Homo sapiens: one gene and its partners. The protein of the gene in region 2 interacts with the protein of the main gene of each other region in a pairwise test. Each region holds a gene or a part of one and is shown on either strand. Other genes may lie near its edges.

Region 1 (3,500 bases), on a different chromosome or scaffold from region 2:
GTTGGGGGAAGGAGAGGGGTGCTCCTCTGGGTAACATCCCAGGCCCCGGGCTCTCCCACGCACTCAGCTCCAGCCACTGATACCTCGGCCCTGGCAGCCCAATGCCCCATCCCTTTATTTTATTTGTTTATTTATTTATAGACAGAGTCTCGCTCTGTTGCTCAGGCTGGAGTGCAGTGGCACAATCTCGGCCCACTACAATCTCTGCCTCCTGGGTTCAAGCAATTCTCCTGCTTCAGCCTCCCAAGTAGCTGGGATTACAGGCATGTGCCACCACACCTGGCTAATTTTTGTGTTTTTAGTAGAAATGGGGTTTCGCCATGTTGGCCAGGCTGGTCTCGAACTCCTGACCTCAGATGATCCACCCACCTTGGCCTTCCAAAGTGCTGGAATTACAGGTGTGAGCCACCGTGCCTGGCCCTGTTATTTTTAATATATATATATATAAAATATTTAATATATATATAAAATATCATATATATATATATATATATATATATATATATATATAGAGAGAGAGAGAGAGAGAGAGAGAGAGAGAGAGAGAGAAAGAGAGAGTCTTGCTCTGTCACCCAGGCTAGAGTGCAGTAGTTCGATCTCGGCTTATTGCAACCTTCGCCTCCTGGGCTCAAGCCATCCTCTCACCTCCTCCCAAGTAGCTGGAACTACAGGCGCCCGCCACCACACCTGGCTAATTTTTGTATTTTTAGTAGAGAAGGGGTTTCATCCTGTTGGCCAGGCTGTTCTCCAACTCCTGACCTCAGGTGATCTGCCCGCCTCGGCCTCCCAAAGTGCTGGGATTATAGGGGTGAGTCACTGTGCCTGGCCCTGTTATTTTTAATTTATAAATAAATAAATATATATATACACATAAATATAAATTATGTATATATAAATATATATACATAAATATAAATTATGTATATATAAATATATATACATAAATATAAATTATGTATATATAAATATATATACATAATACATAAATATAAATTATGTATATATAAATATATATACATAAATATAAATTATGTATATATAAATATATATACATAAATATAAATTATGTATATAAATATATATACATAAATATAAATTATGTATATAAATATATATACATAAATATAAATTATGTATCTATAAATATATATACATAAATATAAATTATGTATCTATAAATATATATATGTGTGTGTGTATATATATATACGTATATATATATGTGTATATATATATACGTATATATATATGTATATACAGAGAGAGAGAGGGAGAGAGACTTGCTCTGTCACCCAGGCTGGAGTGCAGTGGCTTGATCTCGGCTTATTGCAAACTTCGCCTCCTGGGCTCAAGCCATCCTCCCACCTCAACCTCCCAAGTAGCTGGAACTACAGGCACCGCCACCAGGCCTGGCTAATTTTTGTATTTTTGTAGAGACGGGGTTTTGCCATGTTGTCCAGGCTGGTCTCGAACTCCTGGGCTCAAGCAGTCTGCTCACCTCAGCCTCCCAAAGTCCTGGGATTACAGGTGTGAGCCACCATGCCCAGCCTTATTTTTTTTAACCCTAGTTGCAATGGTGTGTGTGTGTCTGTCCCTGTCTATCCTGATGTAAATATTAGTTGACCTGATGAGGAATGGGCCATCCGGTCGCTGACTTCATGTTGGGGTACAGAGAGGAGGGGCGAGTTGAAGACCCCTCCCCACTGCCCCAGCCCAGGATCACTCAGCAGTGCTGCTTGCTTACAGGGGCCTTCAAGCTCTACGACTTGGACAATGATGGCTACATCACCAGGAATGAGATGCTGGACATTGTGGATGCCATTTACCAGATGGTGGTGAGAAGCCGGGTCTCGTGTGGTTAGGGGTGGCAGGAGGGGCAAAGCCAGTGACTGAGAGACAGAGAGAGAGCACTTGTGCAGCCATGCTCCTGCCCAGGGTGGAAGCAGGGGTCACTGGCTGAGCCGTTCTGTACATCTCTGCCTGGGCAGGCAGGCACAAGCTGGTAGATAGTGGGGCTGGGGTGTGGGATGTTCCAGGGCACAATGGCAGGGATGGGGAGGGGAAAGAAGAGGGGGGCGGCCCTCATCTGGAAACTGCCAGGTCTGGGGGGCAAATGCGTGGCCAAGAGCCCAAAGCCCAGAGTGCCAGGGCCCACCCCCGCCTTGTCCGTCCCTGCAGGGGAATACCGTGGAGCTCCCAGAGGAGGAGAACACTCCTGAGAAGAGGGTGGACCGGATCTTTGCCATGATGGATAAGGTGAGGTGGGGGGGCGGGGCTGGTCCTGGACCAGGGAGGCAAGGTGTCGGGGGCAGGAATTGGAGTCCCTGGATCCTGGGCCTGGCTTTGCTGCCAACCTCCTCCATGGCTCACGGCAGGCGGCACGGTGTCCTATCCCTGCTCAGCAGCTAGCCCCATCCAGTGTCCAGAGTCTTAAGTCAGTTTGCTCAGCATGTTTTCTTTAATCAACCAGAGTCCTTAGCCTTTTTTTTTTGTTTGCCATGGACCCCTTTGGCATTCTGGAGAAGCCTACAGACTTCTCAGCATAATGGCTTTAAGCGCATAAAATAAAATCCATAAGATCAAAAAGGAAGCTGATTATTTTAGAAAACAGCTGTCAGAGTATTTTAAAAAAAGAATCTGTGATGTAGCGTTCTGTGAGCTGCTTTCTTAACGCATTCACTAAGATGTAGTGGTGGGTCCAGCAACCCCCGAAATTGCGAGCTGTAATATCTGCAGCAACTAGGGTGTGTTATGAAAATACCTGTGATCCCTACTGTCGACAGATCACAGGTACTGCAGGTCCTGTTGGGGACCGTCGCCTAGGTTTCCATCAAAGGAAAAGCTACATTTCAGTTAGAGGTTAGTAAAAAAAGGCTGATTTTTTTTCCCCCAAGTTCATAGACCTGCTGACTTCTATCCACAGGCCCAAGGTTAAGAAACCCTTCTCTTTTTTTTTGAGACAGAATCTTCGCCCTGTCACCCAGGCTGGAGTGCAGTGGCGGGCGCGATCTCGGCTCACTGCAAGCTCTGCCGCCTGGGTTCACGCAACTCTCCTGCCTCAGCCTCCCGAGTAGCTGGGACTACAGGCGCATGCCACCATACCTGGCTAATTTTTTGTATTTTTAGTAGAGACGGGATTTCACCGTGTTAGCCAGGATGGTCTCGATCTCCTGACTTCGTGATCCACCAGCCTCGGCCTCCCAAAGTGCTGGGATTATAGGCGTGAGCCACCGTGCCTGGCCAAGAAACCCTTCTTTAAAGGGAACCAAAGCCAGGTGTGGTGGCTCACACCTGTAATCCCAGCATTTTGGGAGGCCGAGGCGGGTGAATCACCTGAGGTCAGGAGTTCGAGACCAGCCTGGCCAACATGGTGAATCCCTTTCTCTACTAAAAAAAAAAAAAAAAAAAAATCCGGGAGGCAGCAGTTGCAGTGAGTGGAGATCGCGCCATTGCACTCCAGCCTGGGCAACAGAGTGAGACGCAGTCTCAAAAAAAAAAAA
Region 2 (2,321 bases):
GGACAATATCCGCATCACTGGGAGGTGGTGCGGACTGGGCGAGGACCCTGCACAGGGCCCAGCCTTATATATTAATCTGTAACCAATACTTTTGTCTGTTTCCCCTTCTCCCAGGGGGCCAGGCAGGCCAGGCCCAGGCAAGGGCTGATCCTGGGCCATTGTGTGGGTGAAGAGATGGCATGAGGCAAGCCCACAAGACCAGGGGCCAAAATCCATGAAGCCCAGTTCTGGAGGCCCACCCAAGGTGTATGCGAGGCCAGAAACTGGCACCCAAGGAAAGACATGAAAGCTGGGGAGACAGAGGATCAGGAGCCAGGGGTGCACAGGGCAAGACAGGGAGAGGGCCACAAGGATGCAGAGACAGTGGTGCCGCGTGGGGGCCAGGCAGGCCTGCTCAGCACCCCACTGCCCGAGCCCAGGCCCTGCTGCCTCTGGGCCTCGCTGCCGGCACTTCTGGAGAACCTGGGTCGGCAGAGCCAGTCAGTGAGGAGGAGAACACAGGCGTTGAAGGAATTTATTCATGAGAAGACTGAGGGTCCATCAGGGAGACTGTCCAATGGTGACAAGCTCCAGAAGCCCGCGTCGCAACAGCCAGGAGGGCCAGGCCACCCCAGGCAGGAGGCAGTGGGCTGGCAGCCACCCTGGGCACAGAAGAGCAGACGCAGACAGTGCTGGGCAACGAGGGGCTTTCTTCATGGGCCCGCCTGCCCTGTCCCTCCCCCCAGGTCCCCACCTTCTAGGGTTAAAGTGCAGCTGGGAGGGAGGAGGCAGGCAGAATTGGGGAGCTAGAGAGAGCCCAAGTGAACCCTGACTGTCCACGCAAGTCCCATGTCCTCCTCGTCCTGGAGTTCCTCGAGGTTCAGCGAGCCCATCCCGCCTAGGGCCTCTGGAACCTTGGGGCGAGGGAGGTAACCCCTCACTCCCACACCCATCCGATATTTACAAAGAGCATCCCTGGGAGAGGGGAGAAGGCGGCCGGCTCTGGCAGCTTTCTGGGGGGCCTAGAACTTGGGGCACAGTGCGGGGCACTAACATTTCTAACAGGGAGAGGAGGGGGATGCTCGTCTTCAGGGATGGTCTTGGGGGGTTGTCCCCCTCCTTCTGGCCTTGGAAGACTCTTCCCTTTCCTTCTTCCCCTCCTCCCCTTCCCCCACCAGGCAAGCCAAGGAAGCCAGAGAAAGGCCCGGAGAGCCTGGCTCCCAGCTCCCGCGCCACGAGTCAGCAGGGTCCTGCCCAGGCCTGACTCCCAAACCCCTCCGCTGAGGGAGGGCCACTTCAGTGCCACTGGGGCGACGCTTCCCTGGAGATGGGAAGTGGGGTGAGAGGCCTTGGGGAAACCTGTGGGCCGGAGCCTCCTGTTTCTGCCAGTGGTCTTTCTAGCCCAGCCCTCCCTCAAGCCTGAGGCTGGCAAGATGCTCACACTAAGCCCGGGACCTCAGCAGTACCATCTGCACCCCCAGGGACCTTAGCCCGATTCATGCCATCTTGGATGGCCTCCCCCAGCACTCAATGGCTCAGCCAACTTCCTCCCCCTCCCACAGGCACATCTCTAGAAGCCAGACAGGAAGAGACCACCCCCCCCAAAAAAAGAGCCCTGAAGACCTCTGCTTCCTCCCCCCACTCTTGAATATATTAAATTGTGCAGCTTGGCTCTAACCCCGCCCCTTCAGATCTCCATGGCAACCGGGCAGCATTCAAGTCCGAGTCTGAAGCCAAGTCCATCCAGTGCCAAAGGGGGGCTTCAGCTTCTCCCCTGACTTCCCCAGAGAGTGAGACCCAACATTCCACAGGGGGATGAGAGGGGAGGAAGAGTTGGGGGGGCCTCAGTCCTCAGCCCCCTCTTCCTCTGTGTGGGGGGCCCCAGGGGGGTCCTCGGGCTCAGGGGTCTGCCCGCCAGGATGGGGGTGGGGATGGGGGTGAGGGTGGGTGCCGGGCTGGGATCCCGGCCCGTCCTCGCCCTGCACATAGACGCTCAGCCCCTCGTGACTAGGCTCCTTGCCGCAGGCCTGGCAGCTACAGTGCAGGATCTTCTCCACCAGCTTGTCCACCCTGGGCACCTCCTCGTGGCCCGGGCACTCCAGCGTCACCTGCAGAGGGCAAGAGAGAAGCAGAGGCATGTTCCCAAAGGTCTGGGGCAGGCAAGGCAGCCCCTAGGGTAATACTTCCTCATGGGATCAAGAATCCCAGAGCCCACCTGTGATGCCCAGTTAGCTCTGGGGTCCCATGGGGAGGGGGAAATTGAACCCCTGCACAAGCCACCAGAGCTGTCTCCTCACATCCAGTCCTGCCACCTTCCCACCCATTCCCCACCAGCAGCCACC
Region 3 (3,500 bases), on a different chromosome or scaffold from region 2:
ACCGCAGGTGCCGTCTCGGCCCACCACAAACTGCAACAGGAAAGAGGGAGTGGGCGATCATGGGAGAGTCAGCATTGCAAGGCAGCCCCTTGGCCCCAGGTTAGGCCCCTGGCTTCTCAGGGCACCTCTTCTCCAGGGACACCAGAGCACATTATTTCCTGAAGAGAACACTGCATGTGATTGCAGTGGCCTGAGAATATGAGAATCCAAGACTACTCTGCACTCACGACCTCTTTCCCGTAAAAGCTGTGGGCAGTGAAGGTGGAGCCCCAAGTTCCCGGACTGAGCAGTCCAGGGATTTCTGAGGAGTTCATCCTCAGGACGAGTCTGCCCAGCTGCCCTTGGGGCCTGGGTGAGGCCCTTCAGCCCTGTTTCCTGTCATAGCTCACATCGGGGTCTCCTCCCAATCTCTTGCCTTGTGTGCCAGAGGCTGGATCTTTACTCCCATTCTACAAAGAAACTCACTTCCCACAGAGCTTCTCCCCAAACTCACCCTTTGCAGGCCCTCCCCTCCCGCCCCCAGTGTCCCCTGCCTTGCTATCCTGAGACCAGTTCTCCATCATCTTGAATTCAGGTCCATGAAGCCCTGCTGGCTTCTCTGGTTCGCCTGATAATCTGCCCTGCTGATGAAAAGAACCTGGAGGTCAGCATAGACTAACCCATGAGAGGTGGTGGAGAGGGCTGCACCCACCCCCCACATTAGTACTTATCTGTGCCTGTCACTAAAAGGAAGGAAGGAAGGAAGGAAGGAAGGAAGGAAGGAAGGAAGGAAGGAAGGAAGGAAGGAAGGAAGGAAAGCGGTGTCTTTTGAAAACTGCTACCAAGGCTGAGTTCCAGATTCTGTGCATGTATTATATCGGTTCACCCCCACAGCTCCATGAAAGATGATAAGCCATTAGCACCACTGTAGAGGCTAAAACAGCTGGCCCAGCAGCTGGAGAGCGCATCAGAAATAACAGAATCAATATGCAAACCAATAAAAAGGAAAACCTGCAGAATGTAGGGACAGAGAGAAAGGAAAACGAGGTGTTGTCTAGATATGCTTATCAATGTGAGCTTTGCTAACCCAAAGTAGAGAGATGTTTTGTTTTTGCCTGCTGTTTTATACTACATGGCATATCATATAAAAGTGTAGTGACTTTAAAATAAACAAGACTAGGTTCAGGATTGGCATGTTGGGGGAATAAAAGGAGGATGGCAGAATGGGAATGAATGGTTTGACCTTGACTTCATCCCGTCTGCATGGGTATTTTTCTCTAGGTCAAAGTAAATTTCTTGCTTCTAGGCTGATGTCATGTAAATGAACATATATGAATTATTTTATCTCATCTTACAGTCTTTCTTCCATGGAGATGCTGGGCTGTTCTACTTCTCAGGGATTGAGGGAGGTATGTTGAAATCGCCAGGCCACGGGGGTGGACATCCAAAAAGCTGACAGCTCTGGGCATCAGAAATTATTATTTCAGCATGCATTAAGGATTTGTTCAGTGGGGCTGTTATACTCTCCTACTCCTGGCACACCCCCACCTCACAGGTGTGATGGGTGATGGGAAATGGGCCCCAGGTCTGGCCCAGACCTTCCTGGCACAGGCTGCAGGAAGGTTAGGGAGTTTGAGTTGGGTTCGGCCACTGGCTCCTGAGAAGAGTTCTGGCTGGTCCAGAGATTGACATCAACAGCACATCTCAGACCCCTCCAGCTCTCCTGACCCCTCAGACCCAGCCTCTTAGGCAGCAGAAACCAGTGAGTGCGCCTGCCAGACACAAGCACGTGCGGGCCTGGGCACCAGGCTGTGCCCGCTTGCCTACTCACTCTCTCGCTGGGGGCATGGCTGTGCTCTTGCAGGGCCACCTGGACGGCTTACCTGCAGGGACTTGTCGTACCAGCGATTGGCCCCGTTCTTGCTGTAGCCTCCGCCGTGAAGGAGCTGGAGTGCCCTGTGGGTGTCGCTGAGCTCCACGCCTCCTGGCGCGTCCAGGCATACAAGGCAGATGCAGCGCTCAATCATGTCCAGCGAGTCCCGGTTGGTGGAGTCTGCAGGGGAGGCAGGCACAGCCCTAGCACCTGTCCCGCTCCAGGCCAGTCTTCCCTCCTCAGAGCCCCACACAGGGCAGGGCAGCCCTGTCTTCTGGGATCACAACAAGACCCAGGTCTTGAGCCAGCCCTGACCCCCCACCTTGCCCCACTGTGGGTGGGCAGTGAAGTCAGCCAGAGTGTCCTGAGCCTCTGTCCTACCCCAGGATCCCAGCTCATTCGCACGGTCCCTGCAGGAGCCCTGCTCTCCAGCTGTGACCAGCTCTCCTCCAGATGTGTGGGCTATTGGTCATGCATGCCAAGATGAAGCGGGATGCTTAGACCCTCATGTCAGCCCACATCAGTGGAAGGGCCCTTAATCCCCCACCCAACAGCACCCTCCACTGGGGCTCCTGTGAGCCACATCTGTGTGTAGGCATGCTTGTTTGTGCTGAACTATGACTTTCAGACATCTAAACTGCAATTTCAAAATTGTTGTTGCAATTTCAAAATTAGGCAATTTCACATTAAAACCTGAAGGAAGTGTATTGGTCACCTCCCTGCCCCCAAGCTGTTGGTTCAGAGGCAGAGCTGCAGGCAGAAGGGCCAGGCTGCCTTGAACCCACATCTGGATGAGCTTGTAGGGGCAGTTTTGGACTCATGGATCCAAAGGAGCTCCAAGCCTGGCCCACAGCTGGCTTTTGTGTTAGCCTCTACCAATTCCCAGGCTCCTCTAGACATTCTTCTAGAGTAAGCAGGTCTCAAAAGGGAATCCCCCTCCCTGGTGGCACTGGAAGAGTACAGACAAGGACGGCTCTTCAGGAGCGGGAGTCAGGCACAGAGCACGTGATTTCACCAAGGACACATGCGTTCCTCCCAGAGAGCACCAGAAGCTGCCCTCCCTGGCAGCTTCCTCCACAGGGCACAGGGAGGTTCACCAAGCCCACCCGGCAGGACCTGTTGGGGGCCAGGCCTGCTCCCGCTGCGTGTTCCCATTTCTTCCAAACAGGAGTCTATTGTGCTGACGATGTTCTCTCCACTGCTCAGTACTGGGTGTGGGGGTACACAGCCTGCCTCTTGGTTTAAAGTTCACCAAAAGTTAAAAAGTCCACCCAAAGTTTAACATTTTGGTTTAAAATTCCAAGGAGTCACTTCAAGACCCAATGGTGAGGGCTGCGTATCACCAGGAGAGCCTGACCTTGGGGGCTGGATGCTGGGACAGGATGAGGCACCCAGGGCAGGGGTGAGAGTGCTCTGTGTGTGGGAAGATGGGTGCATGGCATTTGCAGGGAAAGGTTCATTACATGGTAGAGACTCCTAGTTGCACACCACATGTCCTTTCTTTCCTTGCTTGTAGAACCCCTGGTTTTTAGCTTGGTACATGGATAACAAACTAGAGCTATACTTCCCAGCCTCCCTTACAGCTAGGGGTAACCAGGTGTCTAAATTCTATGAGCAAGATCTCAAAAAACTACACCACAGCTTCCGG
Region 4 (4,174 bases), on a different chromosome or scaffold from region 2:
CTACAGGTGGGGGTAAAGAGGTAGCATAGCCTGCCTGGTGTCACAGAGCTATGGGTGATGAGGGACAGCGCCTGTGTCCCTAGTGGCTACGCAGGGCACTGCCCCTCCCTGCACCACTGGATGCTCAGACTGAAGCTGCTGTGGAGAGCAGGAGCCCCAGGCTCCTCAATGATGTGGTCTGGACTTTTTAACACAGACATCAGGGGTGCGGAATCAGTCCACTTTATCCCCTTGTCTCTAACACAAGCTTCTGCAAACTTAGGCTCATACACAGTCTTCCCGATGTCCCTGCAAGCTCCTGACATTGCATGCAACATTTCGTAGGTTTGTGCGTTTTTCTGGGGAACGTAGATTTAGACTTTCATCAGATTCCTGAAGGAATATGTGACCTAAAAAAGGTTAAGAGCAGTCTGATGGTTCTGGAAGGAAGAAGTCTGAAATTGATTAAACAAGGCCTAGCTATGCCTGCTACCCTCGGTTTTCCTGCCATGGCCACACCAGGGCTCCCTTGCCCCTGAAATTCTCTGTGAAGGCTCACGAAGGGTCTCTCTACCAAGTTGCCCCCACAAAACCCAGTCTTAATGATATCCATCTCCTCTTGGGGCAAAACATCACTTTTATTTTCACTTTGAGCACTTGAGTCACATCTCAACTCCATCTCACTGTACTCATGACGCAGTCCTGCCAGGACCCAGTCTTGGTCACTCCCTGAAAGGCAGCTTCATGGCTAATCAGGGAATTCTTGGGTTCTAGGCGAGCACTGGAAAACACCTGGAGAGGGGTCCCTGCACAAGTTTGTAGACAGCCTCAGTCCTCCAGAGCAGCCCCAAACATTTTGTTCCTGCCCCTACCCGCAAAAAAAGCACATTCAGAAAAGCTGAAAGTCTGCAGATAAGAGTGAACACACGTACACATGGGGGTATATGTGCTCAAGGGAGGTGGTGCATGCCTGTAGGATAGCCTCTGTGTGTGTGTGTGTGTGTGTGTGTGTGTGTGTGTGTGTGCAAGCAGCCTTCCTGTATACAGTCACAGGGCCACCTCCCACACATATGCAGACACCAGCATGAGCTCACACATGCCTATAACACCCATACTCCCACATAACCCTGTGAGCCCAGGCCTCACACATGCACACACATGCGTGTGCACACACACGTACATCATCCTGTGTGCATGACCCCAGTCTTCACGTAGATGTGCATATCAAGACCTCACAGGAACACCATTGTGTCCGCATCTCATATGAGCATCCTCACACACCCCTAGACCTCACACACATGTGCCTTCCTATGTGCACACAGCTCTAACCTGCCATACATGTGCACATTTAATGAGTCATGTTTACACCCTTGTTCTCATTCAACCCAGCCAACAGCACTCTTGTAATACTCACACACATGCACCCTTGCAAGGCACACTTGCATTTTCAGGCCTTACACACGAAGCACCTCTTCCTGGTGCACATGCATGAATGCTTGCACACCCTGGCAGGGCACACCAGCGTACCCCAGTGTCACAAGCAATTTCCCTCAAAAGCCCTTCTACAGCCACACACATCACTCCTCAAAATGCACACTAGTACACACACATTCAGAACTCACACCAATACACACCTGCCTCCAGGGCCCCTCCCCCCGTGCTCCTGCTGCCTCAGCAGAAACCAACCAGGGCATCGGTGCTCCTTTGCCCACAAGGCAAACTCTGCCTCCAAAATGCACCCAACCCTTGACCCATCCCAGGATCCTCCAGAAACCCAGCTGGGGACATCCAGGAATCCCTCCCTGACACTCCACACCCTACTGGGCCACCCACAAGGGCCTCCCCTCTTTCCTCATCCTCCCATCCTTCTCTACACAGCAGTCATCAGGGCAGAAAATGAGCTCTGGGCTGGGCAACTTTGCTTGTCCAGAGCCACTGCACCCTTCATACCCTAGCCCCTGAAACAGCGGTGCTCCCCGCTACAGCTTTCCTGATTTCCTCTCCCCACCTCCCAACACCCGGGAAGCCTGTCATGCTCAGATATTAACCCCTACTGTACTGACGCCCTCACTCCTGGCAGGAGCTGAGAAAGGGGAGGTAGGGAGGGAGAAGTTGGCCACTCTGTACAGTCACTGTGGGTGTCTAAAGTCAGGAAGAACTACCGGGAGCTGGTGAATTCTCTGTCACTGGAGGTATCTAAGTGGAGGGCGGATGGCCACCTCAAGCAAAACTAGAGAAGGAATTCCAGCTTTGGACCCAGCTGACTAGGAAAATCCCTTTTTAACCCTAAGTCTCTAAGAATCTGTGTGTATCCAGGTTGTGTGTACTTGTGTGCATTTTGTGTGTATGTGTGTGCACTGGCATACACTGTCAACCCTTCATCCCTACATACACACTGGCCTGGCTAGCTTGGCACATCTGTGCACCCACAAACATACCCACGCCCGACTCTGGACACTCTGTACACAGGCAGGTGCCCCCAAACCCATGCAGCCTGCCTTCATCTGTGTACAAGGAATGCTCCCCAAGCACTGCAGGCACACACACCCCACTAGAGACCCTGACCTCCCCGCCCCCCATGCCTTCCAGGACTTCCTGAGGCACAACTCACTTGCCCAATTCCTCGAAGAGCTGGTACTCTTCCGTGAAGCGGGTGCAGGTGATGGTGGCCATCCTGGCGCTGGGCAGGCAGGTGAGGCTTGGGACTGGGGGACCAGGACTGAGGCGCTGCTGCTCTGCTCCCGAACCTAGGGACCACTTGCCTGCCCGTGCTGCCGAGTGCAAACAGAGAACCGGTTTGACTGACGAGCCCGGGGCTTCTGAGCAGGGCACTGTGGCTGCTCACAGCCTCGCGAGCCTTCGTCAGCATCCAGGTCCCCATGGCAACCACCTCCAAAACGCCCTGTTCCCGTTGCCCCGGTAACTGCCTCCCCAACACCTGCCTGCCTTCCACTGCGAAACCTGCTCTCGGACGCCCTGACCATACCGCACACAATACTGCAAGCCTGTGTGGGCCTGGGGGTGGGATGGACCCAGCACCCCTGGGGTGATGGACCCAAGGAGGGCCTGGAGGAGGTGGAATAGAGCAAACTTTGTCCACAAGTGATCTTTTCTCTTCCCACCTCCCCCACCTCCAACTGTGGGGCCCTTGTAGCAGACGGGATGGGATTAAGTGGGGCAAAAAGGCAGTTGCCATGGTAACAGCCAGTGGGTGCCGCATTCCGGATGGTCCCCAGGAACGAATGACAGGATGCAGTTACCCTGGCAACTTCATCTCTAGAGAGACAGGTATTGCCCCGTTGCCCTGGCAACAGCTGGGTTCTAAGGTTTACAGGGAAATGATGGCTAATTCACAGGGATGGCTCTCCCTCTGTGGATCACTGTAGTCTCTGTAACTGTCTCTCTGTTGCCCTCTGTTTTTTTTTTTTTTTTTTTTTTGCTTCTGCCTCTGTCTTTCTTGTTATGCTCGTGCTCTTTCAGCTCTCTTACCACCTTGTCCATCACACTAGCACTCCAGCTTGGCGCAGAAGTGCAGAGGACACCCCAGGATTCTGGAGGGAACAGCCCTGACTGCCTGCTCACCCCCACCTCTCACAGCTGTGACAGTTGCTCCCCTCCAGAGCCCTCCTCTGCAACCTCTCCCCAACCCCATGCCCCCAACGGGACCATGGAAATCTGGTCTCCTGGTGCTCATGTCCCAGTTTCTGCTTGTGCTTCCAGTCAAGGTAAAAAAAAAAAAAAAAAAAAAGGCGAGAGGGGGCTGTGGGGAGGTGAGCATAGCATGGCTTACCCGGGCTAGGCCACTGGCCAGAGACTTGCCATGAAATCTTCAATCCAAAATTTTCTGGGCACCTTCCCTGCCAACTTCAACTCTTCAGGGCATCAGCCATACCTACAGCCACAAGATCTTACTCCAAGGTCTTGGAGTTAGGAAGAAAAGGGACTGGAGTTTAAGACTAAGGATCTGAGTTTGAGCTCTGATTCCTGGACATTTATTATTTATATTATTTATTTATTTATTTATTTATTTTGGAGACAGAGTCTTACTCTGTCACCCAGGCTGGAGTACAGTGGTGCAAGCTCGGCTCACTGAAGCCTCCGTCTCCTGGGTTCAAGTGATTCTCCTGCCTCAGCCTCCCAAGTAGCTGGGACTACAGGCGCACACCACCACGTCTGGCTAATTTTTTGTGTTTTA

The links. Proteins that work in one complex are often made in the same cells at the same time.
Region 1: the proteins of NBL1 (region 2) and NCS1 interact in binary tests that used the Homo sapiens proteins (3 or more experiments, as listed by UniProt).
Region 3: the proteins of NBL1 (region 2) and CHAT interact in binary tests that used the Homo sapiens proteins (3 or more experiments, as listed by UniProt).
Region 4: the proteins of NBL1 (region 2) and CAMK2A interact in binary tests that used the Homo sapiens proteins (3 or more experiments, as listed by UniProt).

The regions. Positions count from the first base shown.
Region 1 is NC_000009.12:130,220,904-130,224,403, forward strand, and holds part of NCS1 (neuronal calcium sensor 1), read left to right. Parts: intron 1-1,746; coding exon 1,747-1,835; intron 1,836-2,178; coding exon 2,179-2,256; intron 2,257-3,500. UniProt on the Homo sapiens protein: Neuronal calcium sensor, regulator of G protein-coupled receptor phosphorylation in a calcium dependent manner. Directly regulates GRK1 (RHOK), but not GRK2 to GRK5. Can substitute for calmodulin. Stimulates PI4KB kinase activity.
Region 2 is NC_000001.11:19,656,632-19,658,952, reverse strand, and holds the end of NBL1 (neuroblastoma suppressor of tumorigenicity 1 isoform 2 precursor), read right to left. Parts: intron 2,088-2,321; coding exon 1,824-2,087; 3' UTR 501-1,823; downstream 1-500. Other genes in the region: MICOS10-NBL1 (neuroblastoma suppressor of tumorigenicity 1 isoform a precursor), read right to left, coding at 1,824-2,087. UniProt on the Homo sapiens protein: Possible candidate as a tumor suppressor gene of neuroblastoma. May play an important role in preventing cells from entering the final stage (G1/S) of the transformation process.
Region 3 is NC_000010.11:49,645,037-49,648,536, reverse strand, and holds part of CHAT (choline O-acetyltransferase), read right to left. Parts: intron 2,033-3,500; coding exon 1,863-2,032; intron 31-1,862; coding exon 1-30. UniProt on the Homo sapiens protein: Catalyzes the reversible synthesis of acetylcholine (ACh) from acetyl CoA and choline at cholinergic synapses.
Region 4 is NC_000005.10:150,286,974-150,291,147, forward strand, and holds the start of CAMK2A (calcium/calmodulin-dependent protein kinase type II subunit alpha), read right to left. Parts: upstream 2,801-4,174; 5' UTR 2,653-2,800; coding exon 2,591-2,652; intron 1-2,590. UniProt on the Homo sapiens protein: Calcium/calmodulin-dependent protein kinase that functions autonomously after Ca(2+)/calmodulin-binding and autophosphorylation, and is involved in various processes, such as synaptic plasticity, neurotransmitter release and long-term potentiation.